Linked DNA regions of Homo sapiens. The protein of the gene in region 2 purifies or fractionates together with the protein of the main gene of each other region. This does not show direct contact. Each region holds a gene or a part of one and is shown on either strand. Other genes may lie near its edges. The genes, in order: SGPP1, TM2D2 and ALG8.

Region 1 (3,657 bases), on a different chromosome or scaffold from region 2:
AAAAAAAGGAATTAGTAATAAGGACTTATAAACTCAGGAAAACGTGAATTTCAAACACAAGTATCGTGCTCCATAAAAAAGAGGCAAGCCAATTCAATTTTTTAATAAACTGTGTTTCTTTCCAGAATTACCATAGTGATCAATTTTTCTTGGATCTTGCAGCCTCCTCTGGTCTTTACTGTGACCTACTTTTGTAACTCTTACTTTTTGCCTTTCTTCCATTTATCTTTTCATGACCTCACAGATATCTTCTTCTATTATTTACAGTAAACAACATTTTGACAGAATATTCTTATGTGTCTTTCTTTTCCAAAGCTCTTACTATGTTTATCAAATTTTTTATTTATATTAGGTGACAAATCAGCATTTGATTTCAGTCAACATCTTCATACATGTTTAAAACACAAATATTTGTGGATGTTGCATATGTATGTACATACACAAACACAAATTATCTTCTCAAGGTATATAAAAGCTATTCTCATATTTTAAGAATACAATCATATATTTCAAAAATAATATTACTGCAAGCATACCTTAAAAATCACACACAAAGTGTGATTTAAAATGAATTTTCTATATAAGCTGCTGAGTCAGTCTGAGCCCCTGACACTTACTGGCTAGGTTACTTTGCTTAAGTTACATAATATAACCTCCCTGTACCTCAGTTTCCTCATCTGTAAACCCATGCTAGTAATAGGAACATTGGGGTATTATAGAAGAGTAAATGAGATAAAAGACATTTCAAACAATGTCTGATTCATAGTAAGTGCTTAAAAATATATATTAACAGCTGGGCGCAGTGGCTCATGCCTGTAATCCCAACACTTTAGGAGTCCAAGGTGGGCAGATCACAAGGTCAGGAGTTAGAGGCTAGCCTGACCAACATGGTGAAACCCTGTCTCTATTGAAAAAAAAAAAAAAAAAAAATTAGCCGGGCGTGGTGGGGCGTGCCTGTAATCCCAGCTACTCAGGAGGCTGAAGTAGGAGAACTACTTGAACCCAGGAGGCAGAGGTTGCAGTGAGCCAATATCGCACCACTGCACTCCAGCCTGGGCAACAGAGTGAGACTCCATCTCAAAAAATAAAAAATAAAAAATAAAAATATTAACAATGCTATAACATTATTATTATAAAATATAATTATTATAATAAAAAGTAGTAAAAGCACACAAAATGAAAGACTAGTTGGCAATGAGTTGTCTATAAAGTAAGTGCTACAGCTAATTTTTAGCAGGGCAAGGTGGCTGACGCCTGTAATACCAGCACTTTGGGAGGCCGAGGTGGGAGGATCACTTGAGCTCAGGAGTTCAAGACCAGCCTAAGCAACATGGCAAAACCCCGTCTCTATAACAAACAAACAAACAAACAAAATTAGCTGGTGGTAGTGTGTGCCTGTGGTCCCAGCTACTTGGGAGGCTGAGGTGGGAGGATCACTTAAGCCTGGGAGGTCGAGGCTGCAGTGAGCCGGAATCGTGCCACTGTACTCCAGTCTGAGCGACAGAGTAAGACCCTGTCTCAAAAAAAAAAAAAAAAAATTAATCTAAAACCTTCTAATTAAATAAAGTATACAGTTAAAACTGATTACATTCCATATTATTTAAAAATTAAATTAATTCAAGTCAAACAGAGCTTTAAAAATTAAGAAATTTTATTTTTGAAAAGAACATGCAAACATAAATGGAAAAGGAACGTCATATTGTTTATCTTATTCTTCAAAGGACTATTTATTGTCTTTATATCAGATGCTCCTTATTTCTTAATTTTTTTTCCAATTCAGGCTACAAAAAATTCCAATGAATAATATGAGAGCAATAACCATTATCCTAGGCAATGGATCTCAAGTTATTTAATCCTTGGGAAAAGGTCATAACATTTTCTATCCTCCATCACCATAAAATTTATATACAAAACTCTTTAAGTAATTACTTGGAGCTATACTATTCCAATCTCTCCTTTGTCTTATAACGTACCTTAAAAAAATTCAGGCAGGGTGCAGTGACTCACGTCTGTAATCCCAGCACTTTGGGAGGCTGAGGGGAGTGGATCACGAGGTCAAGAGATCGAGACCATCCTGGCCAACATGGTGAAACCCCGTCTCTACTAAAAATACAAACATTAGCCGGGGGTGGTGGTGTGCGCCTGTAGTCCCAGCTACTGAGGAGGCTGAGGCAGGAGAATCGCTTGAACCGGGGAGGCAGAGTTTGCAGTGAGACAAGATCACACCACCACACTCCAGCCTGGGTGACAAAGAGAGATTTCGTCTCAAAAAAAAAAAAAATTCAAAGACTGGAATTTCAAAGAAGCTGAGACAGCAATCTTGAAGAAATACAACTAACTCCTCACTCATCTAATGGGTCAGAATCTCTGGGAAACTTACCCTGGGAAATGTAGAAATCTGCATTTTTAAACAACCCCGAGTTTGTACGCTGTCTTTTTTTTTTGAGATAGGGTCTTGCCCTGTCATCTAGGCTGAAGTGCAGTGGTGCAATCACACCTCACTGCAGCCTCAACCTCCCAGGCTCAAGTGATGCTCCCACCTCAGCCTCCCTAGTAGCTAGAACTACAGGCATGCGCCACCATGCCCAGCTGATTTTTGATTTTTTTTTGCAGAGACAGGGTCTCGCTATATTGCCCAGGCTGGTCTCCAACTCCTGGGCTCAAGGGATCCTTCCGCCTCAGCCTCCCAAAGTGCTAGGTGTACAGGGATGAACCACTACACCTGGCCATATACTGTCATTTTAAGTGTAAGTGAGGAATAATGAAACAGAAAGGATTAATTTAAAATGCTCTGGGTGGTGAATCTTGAGCAAATTTCAATGAGGGCAGAAACATTAAGTAGTAGGTAGTAGTGAAGTAGTAAAGCCAAGACAAAGGAATGGTATAGAACTCAGTTTCAAGAGATGTTTCAGCACGCCAGGCATATATAAGTAACCATACCTGTCCCAAATAAGCAGCTGAGGCACAGCAGATAGGCAAGACTGCCAACCAAAACTTATTAGAAAAACACCAGGCTTTCATTATTTAATTCTTCCCCCAGTTTCTAGGGGAAAGGCTTTCTATATAAGCCTCCAATGCAGTACAATACTAATTCACAGAGTAGAGGACCCAAACAGCTGAAGCAAAGGAAGGTACTTTTGTTTTCAATAGATAACAAGGATCTTTAAAAAAAAAAAAAAAAAAAAAAAAAGGAAAAGGAAAAGGAGGCCAGGCGCGGTGGCTCACGCCTGTAATGCCAGCACTCTGGGAGGCCAGTGGTGGGGAGGCCGATGAGCGGGGGGCGGCTAATTTTTTGTATTTTTTAGTAGAGACGGGGTTTCACTGTGTTAGCCAGGATGGTCTCAATCTCCTGATTGAGATCAGGAGATTGCAGAGAGCCGAGATTGCGCCACAGCACTCCAGCCTGGGCAACAGAGCGAGACTCCGTCTTAAAAAAAAAAAAGGAAAAGCTGGCACTTGGGAGGCCAAGGAGGGAGGATAACTTGAGCCCAGGAGTTCGAGACCAGCCTAGGCAATATAGTGAGACCCCGACTCTTAGGGAAAAAAAAAAGGAAAAAGGTTAAAAAGCCATCTTGTTTTTTGTACTGGATTATTAGTCAAACATTTATAAACACAGAACTTTCATATAAAGGAGGCTTAGGCCAGGCGCAGTGGCTC
Region 2 (2,758 bases):
GCGGTCAGGCCTACAGCGACGTGGAACACACTTCAGTCCAGTGCCATGCCTTAGATGGAATTGAGTGTGCCAGTCCTAGGACCTTTCTACGAGAAAATAAACCTTGTATAAAGTAAGTGTTACTTTGATTGGAGTAGTTGGTACTTGGTTGGAGGTAGAGCCATTTTCCTTGTCTTTTTATTTATTTATTTTTTGTTTTAAGAGACAGGGTCTCACTCTGTTACCCAGGCTGGAGTGCAGTGGTGCAATCATGGCTTATCGCAGCCTGGACCTCCTGAGCTGAAGCAATCCTCCTGCCTCAGCCTCCCGAGTATCTGGGACAACAGGCACATGCCACTGTGTTCAGCTCATTGTTATTTTTTGATATGACTTTTTTTAAGCACCAAAGAGGGTCTATGGCTACCATTGTGCATAATTCATTGACAGAAGCAATATGTTTATAGTAGAGAGGACTCTGGACTTAAGCCCGGAAGGTGAAGTTCTAACTGTCTCTTTCTCTAACTTGCTAAGTGCCTGTGGGCACTCAGTTTATCCCTTATCTACAGAATTTTGGGCCAGATGATCTAGCCCCAAAATTCCTACAATAGATATAAATCTTGTGCAAATTGCCCTAGTATTTCAGGAATAAAGGTTTTATTATAAAAAGTGTAGGCTCCACACTCTGAAAATCAGTTTATCATTAAGGTAAAGGAAGGCACAGAATTTCCTTGTACAGTTTGCTAATGGAAACAGTCTATGAGTATGATTAGTAATATTAGGGTAACTGCAGCTGTGTCAGCACAGTGGATAAGGGCAGAGCCTTATGAAGAAGTCCTCGCTTTTCGCTGCTCAAAACAACAGGAAAGAGTGTATGGAGATCAAGTGTTCATTTAAGAACAGTGCTTCCTTAGAGAACTACATGCAGGAAGCCAGCTGAGTCTCAGGAAAAGAGCCTCTACAGAGGAGGATGGGAGCCCAGACTCCTACTCCTACCATGGTGCCTGTTGTGCAAATGTGCTTGATGACTTCTTGTCCAATCCAACTCTGCAAAAGTCAGTATTTGTTCTTAGAGATGCTCCATATCTTAGCAAGTATTCTGTTGAGACCCTCTACCAACTAGAGATTCTTAGAGGAGAGTAAAGTAAAGGTGAAGAGGGTGTATTATAAAAAAATGCGTATTTTTTTTTTTTTGGAGATGGGGTCTTGTTCCATTGCCCAGGCTGGAGTGTAATGGCACAAACAGACAAACAGGGCTCACTGCAGCCTCGACCTCCTGGGCTCAAGCGATCCTCCTACCTCAGCCTCCCGAGTAACTAGGACTACAGGTGTGCTCCACCACACCTGGCCTTTTTTTTTTTTTTTTTTTTTTTTTTTGGTAGAAACAGGGTCTCGCTATGTTGCCTAGGTTGGCCTGGAGCACCTGGGCTCAAGTGGTCCTCTCATCTTGGCCTCCCAAAGTGCCGGGATTATAGGCATCAGCCACCACCATGGTCAAAAAGTTTTTTAAATTATTGTACATTATGATGTTTGACATCTTAAAAACCTTTCTGGCTGTGAAGAGACTGCTCTTCCTGAAGCTAGTCATTTCTTAGAGATAGCAAAGGGCCCAACCAGCAGCATGCCTTTGATATGCAAACTAGTCTAGAGACATATCTTCTGTTTCTGGCCTGTACACCCCAGGAAATAATATTCCTCTGCCTTAGTCTTCTCAGGTCCAAGTGCCAGGCAACCAGGGACCACTCCTATAGCTTAGAGCCTGCTGAGGTTATTCAAACTAGCCAGTTCTAAACTATTCGCCCTGCCCTGTCTTGCCTTTCCTGCAGAAACCCCAATGAAGATAGTGGCCAAAAACCTTCCCCTCCCTTCTATCTTCCAACCACCCTGGTATCTTTGCCAGGTAGCCTTGTATAACATGATGTGCCTCCTGTCTCTGGGACCTATGAGTATAATAAACTTTGGTTTTTCCTGATCCTCTCACCTCACTGACCATATCATAAAAGAAAACAAAATGGAGGGTAAAAGGCCACAGAGGGTCCACTGCACTGTCTCATCACTTACGTTAAATTCACTAATCCTTAAGGGTTTAAATTTTCGTGCAGTAAAACATCTTCCTTTTCATTCCTTTCACCTAGGTATACCGGACACTACTTCATAACCACTTTACTCTACTCCTTCTTCCTGGGATGTTTTGGTGTGGATCGATTCTGTTTGGGACACACTGGCACTGCAGTAGGGAAGCTGTTGACGCTTGGAGGACTTGGGATTTGGTGGTTTGTTGACCTTATTTTGCTAATTACTGGAGGGCTGATGCCAAGTGATGGCAGCAACTGGTGCACTGTTTACTAAGAAGAGCTGCCATCATGGCCCAGGGAGGCGGGTGAAAGCTCCGTCTTCTGAATTCATCTCTACAGGCTCAAAACTCCTCTTTGATATCAGACCTGATGTTATTTTCCTTCTTTTGGAGGGCATTTGTTTGGTTAAGAAGGCTTCTTTGGACTTTGGAATTTCAACCCAGATTTTACCTTGCAGACGGAATGACAAGCAAAAAGTGTTGTGGGGAATCAAATTTGTTCCTTTCCTCATGCACAAAACATAAAGGATAGTGGCGAGTTTACAAGCTGTGGATGGGTTTCCATAGTCTTCCTTTCTGTACATTGCTATATCTTCAGTCCTTTGGAGCAAGTGGACCTAACAAGTTGAGCAAAATGAATATTTGGATCCATGTTCCTCTTGTGACCCTGAGTCTTCATGCAAGGAGATCTGAAGCTGAACAATGAAA
Region 3 (3,657 bases), on a different chromosome or scaffold from region 2:
GTTAACCAGGATGGTCTCGATCTCCTGACCTCGTGATCCGCCCGCCTCGGCCTCCCAAAGTGCTGGGATTACAGGCGTGAGCCACCACACCCAGCCTCTTCTTCCTAATACTTAATCCAAATTGTAGTTATGTAACTATATATTTGCATTGATTTGTTTCTTGTACTGTTATACTTACTGAACTACACACTTCACAGGGCTAGGGATCATATCTATTTTTTCCTCCCTTCTAGCCTAGCAACAGTACCTGGTACATAATAAAGCAATTAGTAAATGTTTTGTTGAATATATCTGCATTTATCCTGTAACTTCCCTCTCATATCCCAGGGGTTTCTGGTTTGAGAAACAGAGCATTAACTACAATTAAAAACATTCGTTTTTAAATATATGAAGTGTTTCATAAATTTGCATGCTATCCTTGTGCGTGGACCATGCTAAGCTTCCTGTATCATTCGATTTTAGTGCAGGCATACCTTAGAGATATTGTGGGTTTAGACCACCATAATGAAGTGAATATCGCAATAAAGTGAGTCACATGAATTTTTTGATTTCCCAGAGCATGTAAAAGTTATGTTTACACTGGCCGGCCGCGGTGGCTCACGCCTGTAATCCCAGCACTTTGGAGGCCGAGGCGGGCGGATCACGAGGTCAGGAGATCGAGACCACCCTGGCTAACATGGTGAAACCCCATCTCTACTAAAAATACAAAAAAAATTAGCCGGGCTTGGTGAGGGGCGCCTGTAGGGTCAGCTACTCGGTAGGCTGAGGCAGAAGAATGGTGTGAACCCGGAAGGTGAGCTTGCAGTGAGCCGAGATAGCGCCACTGCCCTCCAGCCTGGGCGACAGAGCGAGACTCCGTCTCAAAAAAAAAAAAAAGTTATGTTTACACTATACTATAAAACGTGCAATACTACTATGTCTAAAAAGACAGCGTACACCTTCATTTTAAAATACTTTATCGCTAAAACAAAGCTAATGATCATCTGCACCTTCGGCAAGTCCTAATCTTTTTGCTGGTGGAGGATTTTGCTTCAATGTTGATGGCTGTTGATTGATCAGGTTTATGGGTGCTGAAGATTGGGGTGACTTGTGGCAAACTGGTTTTTTTTTTTTTTTGAGATGGAGTCTCACTCTTGTCACCCAGGCTGGAGTGCAATGGTGTGATCTTGGCTCACTACAACCTTCGCCTCCTGGGTTCAAGTGATTCTCCTGCCTCAGCCTCCTAAGTGGCTGGGATCACAGGTGCCCACCACCACACTTGGCTAATTTTTGTATATTTAGTAGAGACGGGGTTTCCCCATGTTGGCCAGGCGGGTCTTGAACTCCTGACCTCAGGTGACCCGCCCGCCTCAGCCTCCCAAAACGCTGGGATTACAGGCATGAGCCACTGCGCCTGGCAAGACTGTGGCAATTGCTTAAAATAAAACAACAATGAAGCTTGCCACATTGATGGGCTCTTCCTTTCACAAAAGATTCCTCTAGTATGCAATGCTGTTTGATAGGATTTTACCCACAGTAAAACTTTCAAAACTAGAGTCAATCCTTCTTCTCAAACCCTGCCACTGATTATTAACTAAGTTTATATAATATTCTAAATCCTTTGTTGTCATTTCAACAATATTCACAGCATCTTCATTAGCAGAGTGCATCTCAAAAGAAACCACTTTCTCTGCTCATCCATGAGAAGTAACTCCTCATCCACTCAAGTTGTATCATGAGATATCATGCAGCAATTCAATCACATGCTCAGGCTCCACTTCTAGTTCTCTTGCTATTCCCATGACATCTGCAGTTACTTTTTCCAATGAAGTCTTGAACCCCTCAAAGTTATCCATTGGAGTTGGAATCTAATTCTTCCAAACTCTTGTTAATGTTGATATCTTGACCTCCTCCCATGAATCATGAATGTTCTTAATAGCATCTAGAATGGTTTCAATTTACTTTGCCCAGATCCATCAGAAGAATCACTATCTATGGCAGATATAGCCTTATGAAATGTATTTCTTAAATAACAAGACTTAAAAGTCAAAACTGATTGGGCATGGTGGCTCACGCCTATAATCCTAGCACTTTGGGAGGCCAAGGCAGGCAGATTGCTTGAGCACAGGAGTTCAAAAACAGCCTGGGCAACACAGCAAAAACCCATCTCTACTAAAAATACAAAAAATTAGCAGGGTATGGTAGCACACACCTTAAGTCCCAGCTACTTGGCAGGTTGAGGTAGGAGGATTGCTTGAGCCTGAAAGGTGGAGGTTGCAGTGAGATGAGATCATGCTACTGCACTACAGCCTGAGAGGCAGAGTGAGACCCTGTTTCAAAAAAAAAAAAAAATCAACTACTCAACTGGCTGCAGAATAGATGTTACATCAGCAGGCATGAAAACAACATTAAGGTTGGGCACAGGGGCTCATGTCTGTAATCCCAGAACTTTGGGAGGCAAAGGTAGGAGGATTGCTTGAGCCTAGGAATTCCAGGCCGGCCTGAGCAACACAGTGACCCCATCTCTCCAAAAATACATTTAAAAAAAAAGCCGGGCATGGTGCTCACGCCTGTAATCCCAACACTTTGGGAGGCCAAAGAGAGCAGATCACTTGAGGCCAGGAGTTCAAGACCAGCCTGGCCAATGTGGCAAAACCCCATCTCTACTAAAAATATAAAAATTAGCAGGGCATGATGGTGTGCACCTGTAATCCCAGCTACTTGGGTGGCTGAAGCAGGAGAATCACTCGAACCCGGGAAGCTGAGGTTGCAGTGAGCTGAGATTGTGCCACTACACTCCAGCATGGGAGACAGAGTGAAACTCCGTCTCAAACATAAATAAATAAGAAAAAAAAAAAAGAAAAATAATGGGTGGGTGCAGTGGCTCATGTCTGTAATCCTAGCACTTTGGGAGGCCAAGACAGGTGGATCGCTTGAGGTCAGGAATTTGAGACGAGCCTGGGCAACATGGTGAAACCCCATCTCTGCAAAAAATACAAAAAGTTAGCTGGGTGTAGTGGTGTGCACCTGTAGTTCAAGCTACTTGGGGAGCTGAGATGGGAGGATTGTTTGAGCCCAGGAAGTAGAGGCAGCAGTGAGCTGAGATCATACCAGTGCACTCCAGCCTGACAAAGTGAAACACTGTCTCAAAAAAGAAAAGAAAAAGGAAAAATATTGACCAGTGAGGTGGCTCAGGCCTGTAATCCCAGCACTTTGGAAGGGCTCACTTGAGCCCAGGAGTTCGAGATCAGCCTGGGCAACACAGTGACACCTCGTCTCTACCAAAAAGAAAAAAAAAAAACAAACCAAAACAAAACACACACATATAGATAGATAGACAGACAGATAATAGAGAGAGAAAGGAAAAAAAATTAGCTGGGCATGGTGGCATCTGTCTTTGTCCCAGCTATTCGGGAGGCTGAGGGAGGAAGGCTGCTCAAGCGCAGGAGATTAAGGCTGCAGTGAGCCATGATGGTGCCGCTGTACTTCACCCTGGGAGATAGAGCGAGACCCTGCCTCTAGAAAAAAAAAATGTTTCTGAGCAGTAGGTCTCAACAGTGGGCTTATTCAGTAAACCATGCTGTAAATAGATGTGCTGTCATCCAGGGCTTTGTTGTTCCATTTATAGATCACAGGCAGAGTAGATTTAGCATAAGTCTTAAGGGCCATTGGATTTTT

What was found.
Region 1: the proteins of TM2D2 (region 2) and SGPP1 purify together in Homo sapiens (affinity purification with mass spectrometry; one large-scale study listed by BioGRID and IntAct). This does not show direct contact.
Region 3: the proteins of TM2D2 (region 2) and ALG8 purify together in Homo sapiens (affinity purification with mass spectrometry; one large-scale study listed by BioGRID and IntAct). This does not show direct contact.

Annotation. Positions count from the first base shown.
Region 1 is NC_000014.9:63,721,452-63,725,108, forward strand, and holds part of SGPP1 (sphingosine-1-phosphate phosphatase 1), read right to left. Parts: intron 1-3,657.
Region 2 is NC_000008.11:38,990,899-38,993,656, reverse strand, and holds part of TM2D2 (TM2 domain-containing protein 2 isoform a precursor), read left to right. Parts: coding exon 1-112; intron 113-2,111; coding exon 2,112-2,325; 3' UTR 2,326-2,758.
Region 3 is NC_000011.10:78,133,039-78,136,695, forward strand, and holds part of ALG8 (dolichyl pyrophosphate Glc1Man9GlcNAc2 alpha-1,3-glucosyltransferase), read right to left. Parts: intron 2,310-3,657; exon of another isoform or gene 2,192-2,309; intron 1-2,191.